2 separate regions of the Homo sapiens genome follow, and region 2 is linked to region 1. Evidence: fine-mapped expression QTL. A gene starts in region 1. The other region holds a variant in brackets. All regions are shown on one strand. Distances are between the middles of the regions.

Region 1 (8,334 bases):
TATCAGCAAATTTCAGTTCATACCACTAGTTAGTTCTGTGGACCAGAGGCTGGTTTCAGAATGGAAAGACCTTTGCCGAGTGGTAAACGAGGTGGGTAGTTAAAACAATCTAAGGTAAAAATGATCTCTGCAGAATATATTGAATACAATAACTTCTCGTTGAACTCTCAGGTATGGTAGGATGATGGCACCCCAAAAATGTGCACCTCCTAGTCCCCACAACACGTGAATATGTCACCTTATGTGGCAGACAGGATTTAGCTGATGTGATTAAGGATCAAAATGGGAAGATTAACCAGGATTATCCAGTGAACCCCATGGAATCACAAAGGTCCTTATAAGATGGAGACAAGAAGTTCAAAGTCAGTAGTGGGAGCTGTGAGCACAGAAGCTAGAGGTTGGAGTGATGTCAGAGGCAATGAGCCAAGGAGTGCAGGTAGAAGCTGCAAAAGGAGGAAACGGATTCTCTCCTGAAACCTCAGGAAGGAACTAGAGCCTGCAAATTTTGATTTTAGACTTAATACCTTAAGCACTGTAAGACAATACACCTGTGTTGTTTTAACTACTGAATTTGTAGTAATTTGTTATAGCAGCAATGGTATACAATCCAGTAGTTAATAAATATTGTTCACATCTAAGTGCAAAGAAGGGTAGGAAATATGGGTCTTACCCTGCCTGTCCCGGGGAGTTCCAGTAAGGATTGTCTATTTTCGTCCTTCACAATGCATTTTGTACTTGTTGGTCTTAATTACCAAAAGTATAATCAATTCTCTTTTTGTTGCCTAAAAGACAGCATTGGCTGGGCGCAGTGGCTCACCCCTGTAATCCCAGCACTTCGGGAGGCCGAGGCGGGTGGGGCCCCCTGAGAGGAGTTCAAGACCAGCCTGACTAATATGGTGAAACACTGTCTCTACTAAAAATACAAAAATTAGCTGGGCGTGGTGACGTGAGCCTGTAGTCCCAGCTACTCGGAAGGCTGAGACAGGAGAATCGCTTGAACTCCGGAGGTGGAGGTTGCAGCGAGCCGAGATCGTGCCACTGCACTCCAACCTAGGCAACAGAGTAAGACTGTGTCTCAAAAAAAAAAAAAGCAAGAATTTCACTTTCTTTTAAAGTGCTTAATAAAACTGTGTTGGCACCACTTTCCAGGGATAGTTGTTAAACTGTGGTTGGCCCGGCGCGGTGGCTCACGTTTGTAATTCCGCACTTTGAGAGGCTGAGGTGGGCGGATCACCTGAGGTCAGGAGTTCCAGACCAGCCTGGCCAACATGGTGAAACTCCGTCTCTACTAAAAATACAAAAATTAGCCAGGTGTGGTGGTGCACATCTGTAATCCCAGCTACTCAGGAGGCTGACGCAGAAGAATCGCTTGAACCCAGGAGGGAAATGTTGCAGTAAGCTGAGATCACGCCATTGTACTCCAGCCTGGGCGACAGAGCAAGCCCCTGTCTCTAAATAAATAAACAAACTGTGGTCAAAAGTTTATCTTACAAAGGACTTGAGTAGATATTTCTCCAAAGAAAATATACCAATGGCCAATAAACACATGAAAAGATACTCAACACCACTAATTAGGGAAATGCAAGTCAAAAACACAATGAGATACCGATGGCTTTAGTCAAAAAAATAGAAAATAAGGATTGGCAAGAATGTGGAAAGATCGAAACCCTTATGCATTGCTTGTGAGAATGTAGCATACTCAGCCACTGTGGAAAATAGTATGGCATGTTCTGAAAAACTTGAACATAGAATTATATGACCCAGCAATTTCCCTTCTGGACATACACTAAAAGGAAGTGAAAGCAGGGTCTCAAACAGATACTTATGCACCCATGTTCATAGCAGAATAGCCAAAAGGCGGAAAAAACTCAAGTGTTTGTTTATCAACAGACAGATGAAGCAGAATGTAGTAGATACATAAAATGGAATATTATTCAGCCCATGACTTGTGCGCCTCTGGTCCACATAACAACATTAAGATGGTCTGCAGGACAGACAGAATGGAAGATGTATGCCGGGCATGGTGGCTCACTCCTGTAATCCCAGCACTTTGGGAGGCCAAGGTGGACAGATCCTGAGGTCGGGGGGTTGAGACCAGCCCGATGAACCCCATCTCACTAAAAATACAAAAAATTAGCCAGGCATGCTGATGCATGCCTGTAATCCCAGCTACTCGGGAGGCTGAGGTAGGAGAATCTCTTGAACCGGGGAGGCGGAGGTTGCAGTGAGCCGAGATTGCGCCATTGCACTCCAGCCTGGGTAACAAGAGCGAAACTCTTGTCTCAAAAAAAAAAAAAAAAAAAAAAGAATGGAAGATGTACTAATCTTGGTTCAGAAAGACAGAACCAAAAGGATATAGATAGATATATGAGCAGGAATTTATTAGAGGAATTGGCTTACATGATTATGGAGGCTGAGAACTCTGATGATACACCCTTCGCCGGCTGGAGAGCCTGGAAAGCTGGTGGTGTGGCTCAGTCCAACTCTGAAGGCCTCAGAACCAGGGAATAGGATGGCATAACTCTGAGGCAGTAGGCCTGAGAACCCAGGAGGCTGCTAGTGTAACCTGGAGTCTCAACGCCAGAGCCTGGAGTTCTGATGTCCAAGGATGGGAGAAGAGTGTATCCCAGCTTCAGGGCACAGAGGAAACCACCTTTTTGTTCTTTCTGGGCCACAGCTGATTGGACGGTTGCCCACATCAAGGGTGGATCTTCCCTACTCAATCCACTGACCCAGGGGCAATCTTCTTGGGAAACACCCAGAAATAATCCTTTGTCAGTTTTCCAGGTAATCCCAATCCAGTCAAATTGACACCTAAATTTAACCAGTCACACTTTTTTTTTTTTTTTTTTTTTTTTTTGAGACGGAGTCTCGCTGTCGCCCAGGCTGGAGTGCAGTGGTGCGATCTCGGCTCACTGCAAGCTCTGCCTCCCAGGTTCACACCGTTCTCCTGCCTCAGCCTCCCGAGTAGCTGGGACTACAGGCGCACACCACCACACCTGGTTAATTTTTTGTATTTTTAGTAGAGACGGGGTTTTGCCATGTTGACCAGGCTGGTCTCAAACTCCTGAGCTCAGGTAATCCAGCCACCTCGGCTTCCCAAAGTGCTGGGATTACAAGCTTGAGCCACCACGCCTGGCCAACTATCCACTTTTAAGCATGGAATGCAGATCAGGATCAAGAATTTAACCTTTTTTTTTCTCTTCTGTAATATGAGATGAGTAAATCAGAGAATTCTTAGGAAGCATCATGGCATAGCGATTCAATGCACAAGCTCTGAAGCTGGACCACATGGAGTAACAACTAAATCCTAGTTCTGTTATTGATTAGCTTTGCAATGTTGAGCATGTCATCTTACCTCCTGTGCTTCAGTTCCCCGCTGTGTAGATGGAGATAATGGTATCCATCGGGGTTGCTGGGAAGATTAAATGAAGTATGTTTGGTCCTTAGAATAGTATCTGGCACACAGTAAGTGCTGTTAGTTACTATTATGGTGAGCTAGGGCTAAAATTGAAAAATTAATTTAAATTTATCATAAAGAATTCAGAATACAGTCCTCGGCATGTAAATGATCAAAAAACATAGATTTGGTTGTTGTTGATAACAAGCCACTGTGCTTTATTTGAATAATTTGGGTTGGTAGGGTACACTTTGAGGGGCTCCAATTGGGTGAAAATTAACAACTATTTTAGAGGCAAAAGGGCTTCTTCAAAATTAATCATACTGCTTTATTTATTTTATTTTATTTTTGAGACGAAGTCTCACTCTGTTGCCCAAGCTGGAGTGCAATGGCGCGATGTCGGCTCACTGCGACCTCCACCTCCGGGGTTCAAGTTTCACTATGTTGGCCAGGCTAGTCTTGAACTCCTAACTTCATGATCTGCCCGCCTCAGCCTCCGAAAGTGTAGGGATTACAGGCGTGAGCCACCGTGCCCGCCCCTATTTTCTTAAAAAAGGAGGAGAAAGGAAACTGGTAACTTATTTTGATCATCCCCTTGGCATGGCAAAGTCACATCTAGCATGAGGCACTCTTCATTTCTGACTTAGAAGGTTTAAGAAAGAATGAAATGAGGCCGGGCGCGGTGGCTTACACCTATAATCCCAGCACTTTGGGAGGCTGAGGCAGGCGGATCACGAGGTCAGGAGATTGAGACCATCCTGGCTAATATGGTGAAACCCCGTCTCTACTAAAAATACAAAAATTTGCTAGGTGTGGTGGTGCGTGCCTGTAATCCCAGCTACTCGGGAGGCTGAGCCAGGAGAATGGCTTGAACCCAGGAAGCAGAGATTGCAGTGAGCCGAGATCGCCCCACTGCACTCCAGCCTGGGCAACAGAGACTCCGTCTCAAAAAAAAAGAAAAAAAGAAAGAAAGAAAGAATGAAATGCCCATGAATACCAATTGATACTAAAAGCAAAAGCTACATCTGCTTCTTTATTAGTCTTAGCAGTAATTGCCAGTGTTTAAGTAGCATATTGGCATCTACTTAGCAAGCGTTATCTGTATATTACTGGCTGGGACTATGACAGAAGAAAAGGCAAATATATACTCTAAAAATTATTTGGACCACGTTCCTTTGCGTGGCTGATAGCATTTGAACTGAATAGTTGGTAAAAAACAAAAAACAAAACAAAACAAAACAAAAACCAGAAGTGGAGCCAAAGTGATTATGGGCAGCTGCGTGCACCCTGTTGCACCAGGCCGACTTCTTTGGACCTTTCCATAGCTAGGAATTGCAGGCTTCACTTACTCCACCGCACGTGTCTGATTCCTTCCCTAAGGCGGCAGGGTGGGAAAGGGAAGGTCGTTAGAAACTGTGACAGGGAGTCTCGGGAACGGTTGCCTATTTAAATAGCGAGTGAAAACCAGGCAGAAATGTTTGCCGGCTGTAAGCAAAGCGAAGAGGTTACTCGTCAGTGATGAGCGGAGAGGGAGAATTACGGGATCACCTGAGCTCAGGAATTACCAGCGCCGCTGACACCTGCAGCAAAATTTTCCATGAACAGACGGCATCCTGTAGAGGAGGAGGGGAGCGTGGGAAAGAGAGGTGTGCACCGCGCTGGGTCGCGCCCTCTCCCCGTGGGGCCCCGGCCCGGACCCCGCCCCCGCGCTGTGGGTGGGCGCCTCCCGGCTGTCACTCAGCGGCCGCGGTGGCTCCGGGCCCCGCCCGACACGCACTTCAGGGCGGCCCCGCCCCGCCCGCGTCAGGCTGGCCAGGCTTCAGTCACAACACGGTGGGGCTCCCTGGCTGCGCCCGGCCCGGCAGCTACGGGCCCAGCGCCTGGTGGCGGCGCTGAGGGGTCGCCGAGAGGGGCCCGGCGGCGTCTGCGGGGGCCGCTCCCTCGGTGGGCCGCGGGCGAGGCATGAGCGCGGGCTCCCCCTGCCTCCGGAGCGCCGGCGGGGGACCGGGGGGCAGGAGATGTGCCTGTCCTTAGCGGCCCAGGAAGCAGCATGCACCCCGATGCGACCGACAGTGGCGGCGCCGGCCCCAGCCCCGCGCGGGCCGCAGGCGCCGGCGGCCGTCCTGTCTCGGGCTTCAGGGGCGAGCGGCGGCCGGAGTCCCCGGGGGACGCGGAGGCAGCAGCAGCGGCGGCGCCGGGGGCCCCGGGCGGCCGGAGCTGGTGGAAGCCCGTGGCGGTGGCCGCACTCGCCGCCGTGGCCCTCTCCTTCCTGGGGCCCGGCAGCGGGGAGGCGGCGGGGGCCGCGGGGCTGAGCTCCGTCCTGTTCAGGCTCAGCCTGTACCTGAGCTGCGCGGCGGCCGCCTTCCTGCTGGGGATCCTGTTTGCCCTCGTCTGCCGGAGCCCGCGCGCCCAGCCGCCCGACTTCGCCGCCGCCTGGAGCCGGCTGGCCGCGACCTCAGCCGCCCGCCGCCCGCCGGGGGTAAGTACCCGACTCCTGGCCGCCCAGCTCCGCCGGCCCTCCCCGCTTCCGGTGCCAGCTCCCGCGCCCCGAGCTCCGGGGGGCCGCGGCATGCCCTTGTCGAAGCGGGAAGCCGGGAGCCAGGGGGCTGGGCTGCGGGCCCGGCCGTGGACGCGAGCGTTCCCCGGCGCCCGCGCGCGGCGGGCTCCGGGCTCCGGGCTCCGCGCTCCGCGGTGCTGGAGGAGATGCGCGTTATTTACTGGGCTCTGTAGTCACTCGACAACCATCCTCAGTCACAACCCTAAGGGTGTCCCCAGACCTTCGGTGTCGCTTGCCGTGGGAGGGGAAGAAGGGAATCACAGCGTTCGCTACGTGCAGGCTCTGCGCACGGTCCTGGCGATCCGCTTGGTTCTTCTGGCCGTTCTCGGTGGGAGGCAACTTTATGACCGTTTGCCGATGAGGAAACTTGCTTCGGTCCCTGGCCCAGCGCCTCACCCCCAAGCCCGCGTACCCTTCCCACCACCCTATCCTGCCTTCCACCATGCGGATACGTATTATAGTTGTGCAGTCCCCGCTGGCTTCTGTGATTTGGAAGGGGGATGCCAGAAATCACTGGTTTGCAACAAAAGGAAAGCCATCCTCAGCGCGCTGTGGGACACTAGGGCGGGGGTTAGGGAATGTAGGAAAGAACAGTGTTTTAAATGAGCGCTTCTCTTCTTCAGTGCCAAACCCACTGCCCCATCTTTCTTCCACATTCCTTCTCATAATCCTTTAAAGGGAACTTTATTCTATCCCAGCTTAACACTCACTGCTTGACTGAGTGATACCATCATTCTAATGAAATTGCCCAAGCGCTTTGGGGTAAGATAAATGGCAGTGGCTCAACTTCATAAGAATATTTGTTAATGATCATTTGTCCCCAGGGTTTGTATTTGCTTATCACATGACCTGCTCACTCCTTTATTTTAAAAGAAAGCACCACACTTCACCAAACTACTCTGAGTGTGTTAGTTCAGAATGCAGCGCTGAGATAATGGCGGAAGGCATTAGTAGGTAACAGACATTTCGCTCAGTAGGCTGATAAACAAGGCAGTATATTAAGGAGCAGGCAACTCCTGTTTTTAGAAGTGGTCTCAAAAATTAGTAAAGTTGGTTTCTCTTACAAAATCTCCACTTAGCCATCCGTTTTTCATATCTCATTTAGCAGGAGTTGCGGAGCAGATATGTCTCTCCTCTTTTTTTCTACCATGGCAAGTAAGGACCCTGAGATTTTACTAGTTTGTTTGTTGATCAATAAAATATGTCTTAGTTCTTGAGTACTGTAAGATGTTATAATTCATTCGGTAAATATTTATTGAGCATCTTGTGTGAGCCAGGTACTGTTTTGGAAGCTGAGTTTGAATCAACAGGACACATAAATATCCTGCTCTCTGGAGATCTTATGGGGGAGCAGGCAATAAATAAATACTGTGGGATAGTGATAAATGCTTTTGAAACAGTGATTAAGAGGTAAGAGATGAAGAGGGACTAGTAGGTGAGGGAAGGAAGTTTAGAGGGTTAGGTCAAGATCAAAGTCCTGGTATTGCAGACCATCTCCCAGGGCATTGAAAGCCTCCTGTTGTGGGTTAGCACTCTGTTTCCTGGAAAATGCATTCCCGCAAATCTCCCAGCTCACTGGCACCTCTGGGTAGGTAAAACGTGGATTATCATCTAGAAAGATTGTTTAGTAGAGGAGTTGGAGAAAATAGTATTTTAAAGGTGACAGAGAAAATGAAGCAGCATGTATAAATCTCTCATGAATACTACCCGAAGATTTCAGGTAATAGAAGAGGGGAAGTATAATCTAAGGAAAATGAATATTGGTAATTATTTTTGTCCTTGAATTCCTAAAATAGCCTTAAATAAGAAATTAAGTGCATTAGGGGCTGGGCACAGGTTTCACCATGTTGCCTAGGCTGGTCTTGAACTCCTGAGCTCAAATGATCCGCCCTCCTCAGCCTCGGAAAGTGTTAGGATTACAGGCGTGAGCCACTGTGCCTGGCCTAACCCTGCCTCTTAAAAAAAAAAAAATTTTTTTTTAAATTTTTTAAGTGCATTAGGAAATTACATTCTAAGTTATATATTGCTTAGAACTGAAATACATGTCATTCACATAAAATTCTATTTTCTTTGTAGTACTGGTACTGTTTACTCAAGCCTCTAGTGCTGTATTTCCAATAATTTGTGTGATGTGTGTGTGTGTGTGTGTGTGTGTGTGTTTTTTTTTTTTTTTGCTTTGAGACAGGGTCTGCTCTGTCGTGCAAGCCACCACGCCTGGCTAAGTTTTTGTAGAGACAGGGTCCTCAAGTGATCCTCCTGCCTCAGCCTCCCAAAGGGCTAGAATTATCGGCGTGAGCCACCGTGCCTGGCTGTGTGTGCTTTTTAAATGTTCTCTTCTTTATGAATGGAAGAGTGGGAAGCAGAAGCATGTGGTGTA
Region 2 (8,334 bases), 76 kb after region 1:
GCCCAGGCTGGTCTCAAACTATCCACCGACCTTGGCCTCCCAAAGTATTGGAATTACAGACGTGAGCCACCACACCATGCTGCAGTTTTATTTAAGTAGAGAAAAGCTTGTAATAACCAAAATGCCTAACAAAAAGGGTTTGGTTAAAAAGATTTTTGGTGTATCTATACAGTGGAATACCATATATTGGTAATGGTGTAGCATTAGCATATTTAATTGTGCTGGAAAATATTAATTATAAATTAATAAAAAACACTCTAAGGCAATATGTATAGCATAAACCCAGTTTTATAAAACAAAAAAATTATGTTTGCATAGAAAAAGGTTATAAAGATAGTCCAAATGTTAATAGTGGTTAACTTTGAATGTTGTGCTTTGTATATTTTCTCATTTTCTTCAATGAACATATGCTACTTTAGAGAAAGTAAAAACTGGTGCAGACTGAGAAAGTAAAATCTGCCCAGCCATTTATCAGGCTGGTATAACAGACACTAAAGCCACCTACAAAGTAAACAGGAAACAATATTTCTCCTAAGTACCTGCCATGGCAGTAAAATGTCATAATGATACCCTTCTTTGTGCTTTCGTGTTCACTGAGAAACTTTGTTTTCAAAAATCTTCAACTGCCAGTTCCTGTTTGGAATTATGTCAGTAAGAATGACAGATTCTACTTTTGCCTGGGTGATCTAAGTCAGCTTGACACAAAGAAGCAGCTTTGATTTACGACCCAGATGCAGAGCCGCAGTTATGGGGTTTCTGGACTCAGTATATCTATCTTGCAGCTTTCAGGAAACGAGACCCTGGATCCACCCAACATTGACCGCTTTACACAGCCCTGTCTTGGGCCTATCAAAATGCTGCTTCATTTAAATTTCACCTTCACTCCACTGTTCCCTAGAATCCCATAGTAATGTTACCTTTTCCCTCGTTTGGAGAGACGCCCCACAGCTTCCACTGCTACACTGTCTCTTGCTCTTTATGTGGGTCAGTTGACCTGATTTTGTTGGACTAGAGTGATCTTGGTGGTCTCAGGTTGATTGGGCTAAAATGCTCTGTAATCAGGAAAAAATAAGGCTGCTTCAAATTTATACATATTTAACAAACATGTATACGTACCATTTCCCTAGATAGTACATATCTAAAGACTCAGTAACTGTGTTAAGGAAGAATAATAATGAACATTTATTGAACTCTCACTGCGGGGCAGACTGTGTTTTAAGATTTTTAAGGGTATTATCTAATTTAATGTGTATAACAACCCTATAAAGAAAAATTACTCTTATTACTCTTTTCTATAAATGATGATGCTTTAGTTTTAGAAAGCTTAAATCATTTTCCCAGGATGACATAGTGTGTGTTAGAAACAGGATTTGAACACAGGCCATCCACTGTGAGAGCTCACATTCTTTACTACTCTGATACACTTTCTCATTTATCCAGCAGTCCCTTTTAGTAGTGCCATGGATGGGAAAAAACTTCAGCTTAGCTGGCTAAAAGCATCATGGCTTTATTTCTTCACAAATTCTATAACTGAAGTCCCTCTAACAAAAACATTCCTAGCCTGTGGCAACTCTGAAAACATTCTTATAAAATTCTTTAAGCTGGGTGCGGTGGTTCATGCCTGAAATCCCAGCACTTTGGGAGGCTGAGGCGGGCAGATCACTTGAGGTCAGGAGTTCAAGACCAGCCTGGACAACATGGTGAAACGTCATCTCTACGAAAAATACAAAAATTAGCCGGGTATGGTCGTGCGCACCTGTAATCCCAGCTATTCCAGAGGCTGAGACATGAGAATCGCTTGAACCTGGGAGGTGGAAGTTGCAGTGAGTCGAGATTGCACCATTGCACTCCAGTCTGGGCAACAGAGCGAGACTCCATCTCAAAATAAATAAATAAAAATAAAAATTCTTTGGTTTTTCATAAGCACTCGTAATGTGTATGGTATTCTCCATAATCTTGCTAATTTTTATAAAACAGTGTTTTAAACCATTTATCACATCGCATACCTGAGACTAAGGTTTGGCCAGCCTTTGACTCTGCCATGAAATTACAGCATGTGCATGTCCGGACAGGCTGGAGTGCAACGGCGGAATCTCAGCTCACTGCAACCTCCACCTCCCGAGTTCAAGCGATTCCCCTGCCTCAGCCTCCCGAGTAGCTGGGATTGCAGGCACCCGCCACCATGTCCAGCTTATTTATTTATTTAGTATTTTTAGTAAAGACAGAGTTTCACCATGTTGGCCAGGCTGGTCTTGAACTCCTGACCTCAAGTGATCTACCCACCTCAGCCTCCCAAAGTGCTGGGATTACAGGCATGAGCCACCCTGCCTGGCCTCAAATCTGTAACTATCTAAGGTGATGACTTTGAAGTGCTGCGTAGCATTTCAGTGAGTTTGAGATTGTTGGGACGTGTTCAGAAACACAAACTTGCTCTTTTTATTTAGCCACTTGTAAAATACCAAAGAGAGATGAGGTGGCCACTCTGAGGAGCAGATGGCAGTTATCTTTGTGTGGCTTTTCCTTGTCACTGGGACAAAGGATACTGTAGGTAGGATCTTGCCAGAGTTGGAAAGCAGCTGAATTCTTGTTATGCCCCTCCTCCCTAATACTTGACTTTACATTATCATTTTGCAAAACATATACCAACAATCTGTGCACTTTTGATCAAGGGAAAGCGTACAAACATCAGCCCTCCTGATTCTTGAACCGAACTCAGCACTTGCAAAGTCGTATCCTCCTCTGGAGAAAGAAAACCGAGTGAGTGCCAGGTAACTCTGGAAGCCCGTGTCCCCGTGTCCTCATGGATAGCCAGCATTTGGATGTGTTTGGATGTATATATTGTATAGTTTTGTTGAGAAAAAAACAAGAATGAGAAAGTCAATCATTTCCTCTCGGTATCCAGTAACAGTGAATTAAACAAATTCAGTAATCATCTTCAGATGCCCACTATGTGCAAAGTGCTGTGTCAGAAGGTCTGGTGAGTACTAAGATGAACTGGTTACACTCCTTGGATTCCACCCCCTGCTGTCAAGTGTTTGCAGTTCCTCACAGGAGACCCATGTGACTATAAGTAGCTAAGTAGGAAGCAAGATCCTAAGGCTGGAAGTGGAGTGTAAAGCACCAAGGAAGTGGGTAGGAGCAAATATTTTATTCTATAGCAGAGAACTCTTAAGAAAGCTTCAGAGAGGAATGGCCATGCATGGAGTGTTTAATAAGAGTTAACAGGATTTCAGCAGATAAGGGGAAGTGATGGTG[T/C]GCAGGAAGAAACAGGAGTACTGTTAAGGAGAAGGAGAAATATTACTGAGAAGGGAGTCAGGAAAGACCTGGAGTGTGTTCATGGTATCACGTATGGTCTGGTTTGGCAGAAACAGTATGCAGGAGGGATATAGAAGGCAGTAAAGCTGGAAAGATGATCTGGCATTGGCCATACTTACGTACTTAGAAAAACCCTAGAGAAGATAAGTATTAACCTATATTGTATTTTAGAGTAGCAGAAAAATGGTTAGAGCATGAGCTTTAGAAGACAGGCAGCCCTAGATTGTCATTCTGTCTCTAGGACTTAAAAGCAATGAGACCTTGTATAGATCTCATAATCATCTGAATTCTAATTTCCTTCTCTGTAATGTGGACATAATTCTGGCACCTTATTATGAGGATTAAGTGAGATAATGTAAATTAAAATATCTAAACAGGTACCCAGTACAATCTATGAATGTTTGCTGGTATTACATTATAATTTTATGGTTTCATTAAAAAAATCTTTAACTCTTTAGTCAGATGGTGTGTATTTTCTTTGGTACCCTTGATGACTCATTTGTTCCAAAGCATGAATCACAAAGAATATCAAAAGAATAAATTGTTCAGAATATTATTTTTACCTGTTAAGTGTTAGAAATGTTGACTCTTGTTAATTTAGCTCATTAATATCTATTGAGTGCCTACCATATGTTTAGTGCCAAGCTAGGTACTATAGGAGAATATAAGACAGAACTCCTGTGTTTAAGAGACTCTTGATCTAGTTGGGGTGAAAAAAGTAGCATATCTTTATTATACACAGAACTATGGTTTTGTAGTTTTCAGTCTACATTCTTAGGCTCGAAAATGTGTCAACATTCTTTGAAGGTGTATTAGGCCTTGAAATGACTGGGCACACCATTTTCTTTGTTCACAGCATTCTTTGTGGAAGTGTGACTCTTTAAAACAGCAATATGAAAGAGTAAATAGATACTATTATAGAGCAGAAGTCATTCAGGATTTCAGAGAAGACAGATATTGGTGTGCATTATAGGGATGGGGAAGACTTGAGGGAAGAAGTAATATATGTAAGATCTAGGTAGGTGGACAAGTAGGAAGACTGCCTTCCAGCAGGAAACAAAGCATGAGACTGTAGTTTTGAGAGGGCAATATAGAAACCAGCCTGGCTTAATTAGGTTCACATTCATAGGGAGAAAAAAAACGAAGTTGTTGGATAGTAGAGCCAGTGCCAAGTTGTGAAGGGAACGTAGGCAGGAATGTGGGGTTATTCATTTGGGGAGGTGCAGGAGGTAAACAAGGGAGAGATGAGGTGAGTGTTCCCATAGGAGGGTGTGTTGACAGGTGCTCAGGATGGTTTGGATGGGAGAGAGGATTGAAGTCAGGGAGACAGGCCATTTAGCCATTGCAGTGACCTACTCAGGAAAGAAGGCAGCCTGAAACAATGGTAGCTGAAGGTAGTGTAAGCAAGAAGCTTATTTAGAGGCATTCAAAGGACCATCCGTGGGGCTTTGAAACTGATGTTTATTAGTAGTATATATACCTAAGATGATTTTGAGAAGGATGATGGTACTAGTAGAGAAACGGAAAGGTAAGGAAACCTTACTATGGAAGAAAGAAGGTTAGTTTAGCTTGAATAGGCTTAGATACATAGGTACATAGATAAAACAGCTTAGAAAAAGTTAAAAATGACTCATAAGTCTACCATTTTAACACAACTGCCATTCATTTCATCTCTATTTTGCCTTGTAGCCCTGGCTCATATATACACATAGATACATATCTGCAATCATAAATGTATGTGCCATTTTTCATTTTAAAAATTAGTCTGTCATAAACATCTATTTTCATGTAATCTTTATTATTATAAATATTACTGGCTGGATGCTTTCTGTTTAATCTGATATGTCCTGAAAGCAAGGACCATATTGGTGGTGTTCATTTCTGTGTGTCTGGAACGTAAGAAAAGATTAAGAAATGTTTGTTTAATGAAAGCATCATTGGCCATACTCATTATTGACCATGAGTATTTTCGTGCGTTTCTTTGTAGAACTTGCTACAACAAACATGTATGTGATAGTTTGGGCTTTGGGTTTTCATTTTGATTTTTTTCTTTTGTTAAACTGTTACCTTATGATAAATACTTGAGATTGGAATTGCTGTGTGGAAGCACGTCAAGTCTTCCTCAGAAAGCTCTCTATCAGTTGGAGTGGCATTTGGCCACAAGACAGCTTGACATACAGCAACTTAAATGAGGCAGGTGTTTATTTTCCCCATGTCACCACATGTCCTGAGATTGGTAGTTAGGGGCTGTTTTGATGGTTCATGATGTAATTGGAACCCTGAACTCCTCCCGTCTTCTTACTGCATCATCCTTAGCTTGTAGTTTTGTTTTTGTGTTTTTGAGACGGGGTCTTGCTCTGTTGCCCAGGCTGGAGTGCAGTAACACAATCATAGCTCACTGCAACCTCAACCACCCAGGCTCAAGTGATCCTCCTGCCTCAGGCTCCCAAGTAGCTGGTACTACAGGTGTGCGCCACCATGCCCAGCTAATTTTTTTTTTTTATTTTTAGTAGAGACAGGGTCTCCCTTTGTTTCCCAGGCTGGTCTCAAACTCCTGGGCTCAAGCAATCCTCCCACCTCAGCCTCCCTAAGTATTGGGATTATAGGCATGAGCCACCACACCTGGCCTTTTTCTGTTTTGGGGTTTGTTTTGTTTTGTTTTGTTTTGTTATGTGTTTTTTAAAGAAACAGGGTCTTGCTCTGTCATCCAGGCTGGAGGGCAGTGGCGCAATCATAGCTCACTGAGACTTTGAACTCCTGGGTTCAATTGATCCTTCTGCCTCAGCCTCCATAGTAGCTAGGACTACCGGCATGCATCACCACTCCCAGCCAACTTTTTAATTTTTTGTAGAGATGAGATCTCACTATACTGCCTAGGCTCTTGAACTCCTGGCCTCAAAGCAATCCTCCCTCGGCTTCCTAAAATGTTGGGATTACAAGTGTGAGCCACTGTGCCCGGCCTGGCCTGTGGCTTTTACCCTCATGATTGTAAGGTACTGTTGTGCCTTTATCCAGTTGCATCCTTGTTTTACACAGAAAAATGAGGGAAGGGTGAGGACTAAAGTTGGAAAGGGCTTTTCTGCGGAGGCTGCTTTTAGCCTGCTTTCCTGGAATCCCTACCCGGTGACTCCTGCCTGTCTCCAAGGCTAGAATGGTATCACCTGGCCATCTCTGACTGCTGGGAAGAAAGCTAGTCTTTTTAGCTGGGTATGTCACTTTCCCTGATAAAACTGTAGGTCACTTAACAAGGAAGGAAGGGAGACTGGACGTTGGGCAGGCAGCCGGCAGTGTCTGCCACCATCTCTGACTGGCATGCCAACACTGCTCCTGACAGCCTGCTCTGAGGTCCTGAGAGTCAGCCACTGATGTTTATATTATCCAAATGAAAAAATAAGGTGCAAATTTGTGAGGAGTCCATGAGTAGCTATGACTAAGATAAATTTGTCTCTCCTCTGGGTTTTAGTTGAAAAGCAAAAGAATGTATGTAATTGTGTGCTCTAAAAGCCAGCAGATGTAACATTAAATCTTAGAACACTGCACGGTTTTTGTTCAAAGTAAGAATTAATGTTAAAGAACTTTATTACCAGCAGATGAAATTAATTAATTCATATAATTAAGGGCTAAGAAACACTCAGGATAAACCACTTTGATTAGGGCAATACTTAGTAACCATTAAAGGACTCTTAAGAATTTGGATTTGTAAAGCCCAATTGAATTTATGCTCAAAATAGCTACAACTCCAGGGTTGTACTCAGCACTTAAAATGTAGAATTATGTTTATTTTTCCTGACTTGGAGGTCTTCTTAGGCACACATATATATAGCTGGTGCTCTAATCTCATGCTTCTCAGCTCTCCGTGTGCCTTAGAATTGCCAGGAGAGCTTTAAAAATACTGATGCGAGTCCTGGTGCAGATATTTTGATTCTGTTGGGTTGGGACCGTGTTCTAAATGAGAAGCAATGAGGCGCTGCACTCAGGCAGGGCAGTGGGGCTGCAGGGGAGAGGGCAGTTCTGAGAACTATTTAAGACGGCACCATCCAGTAGAACTTTCTACAGTGAAGAAAATGTTCTACTTGGCACCGCCCGGTGTGGTCCACAAGCCCACAGGTACCGTGGAGCATTTGAAATGTGGCTAGTGTGATTGAGGAACTAAACGTTTATTAATTTAATTGGATAGCCACATGTAGCTCATGATCACCTTATTAGACAGTGCCAATGTAAGAAGTAGAATCAGCTAGCTCTGCTCACCTAGGATTGTGGAGGAGAGGGAGGCTGAGCATAACCTCAGAGTTTCTACAGGTAGTTATGCTTCTGGTATAGGGAACAGAGTGGAAGTGAGGAGGCTCCTGATGTTTACGTGAGGGCCTCAGAATGACTAGCGCGTGGCATGGGGCCCGGCCTATTGTAGATGCTCGGTCTATGTCGGATTATTTTATGGAGCCTTGGGCAGGATTCACAGCTCCTGTGTTACATTTGTTTAGTATAAATACAGTCTAAAGTTATTTCTGAAAATAGTATTTTCTTCCTCTTAAATCTTTTTCTTTTCTCTTTTTAAAAATCAGGTATCAAATTGTAGTGGAAATAATCCAGGCGACTACAATTAGCAGCTTTCCCCAACTGAAGAGGCACAAAGGTAAGAGCCAGGTTGTTTTCTTCAGTTCCACATCTGAAAGGTCAGCTTGATCCCCGGCCTTCTCCCACCTGTCAGATCTTTGGCAAATAGGAGCTTTTCTGGCTTACATTTAAATATTTCAATTTATTAAAAACAATACTATTACAGTATTAGAGAAGTAAATATAATTTCATCCTAACAACAACCTTTGTCTGTATTTCTGTATTCCCGTATAAACTTTATTCAGCTGCAGTCATAATTTTTAGAAGGCTAAAATCATTCAGTATATGTTTCTGTTCTGTTTTTAAACTAAACATGATTACATACTTTTTTTCACATATTGAAATTTAATATTTCTATCTTGAAACATAATCTTGATGGTCATTTAAATGACTCCAATAAGTTGA

Evidence for each region. PIP is the estimated chance that this variant, and not a neighbour inherited with it, causes the effect.
Region 2: its variant is fine-mapped to the expression of SNX25 in whole blood (INTERVAL, PIP above 0.99).

Annotation. Positions count from the first base shown.
Region 1 is chr4:185,204,377-185,212,710 of GRCh38, forward strand. SNX25 (sorting nexin 25) reads left to right here and starts at 5,222. Exons shown (of 19, transcript NM_001378034.2): 1 at 5,222-5,879. The coding sequence starts at 5,451. It also overlaps a transcript of CFAP97 not described here. RefSeq lists enhancers at 467-576, 687-776 and silencers at 4,921-5,500, 5,611-5,770, 5,841-6,030.
Region 2 is chr4:185,280,135-185,288,468 of GRCh38, forward strand. It overlaps SNX25 (sorting nexin 25), which reads left to right. Exons shown (of 19, transcript NM_001378034.2): 6 at 7,878-7,948. Among named protein-coding and RNA genes, the nearest start is that of SNX25, 75 kb to the left of the region's middle. The variant T/C (reference allele first, on the strand shown) is at 3,256.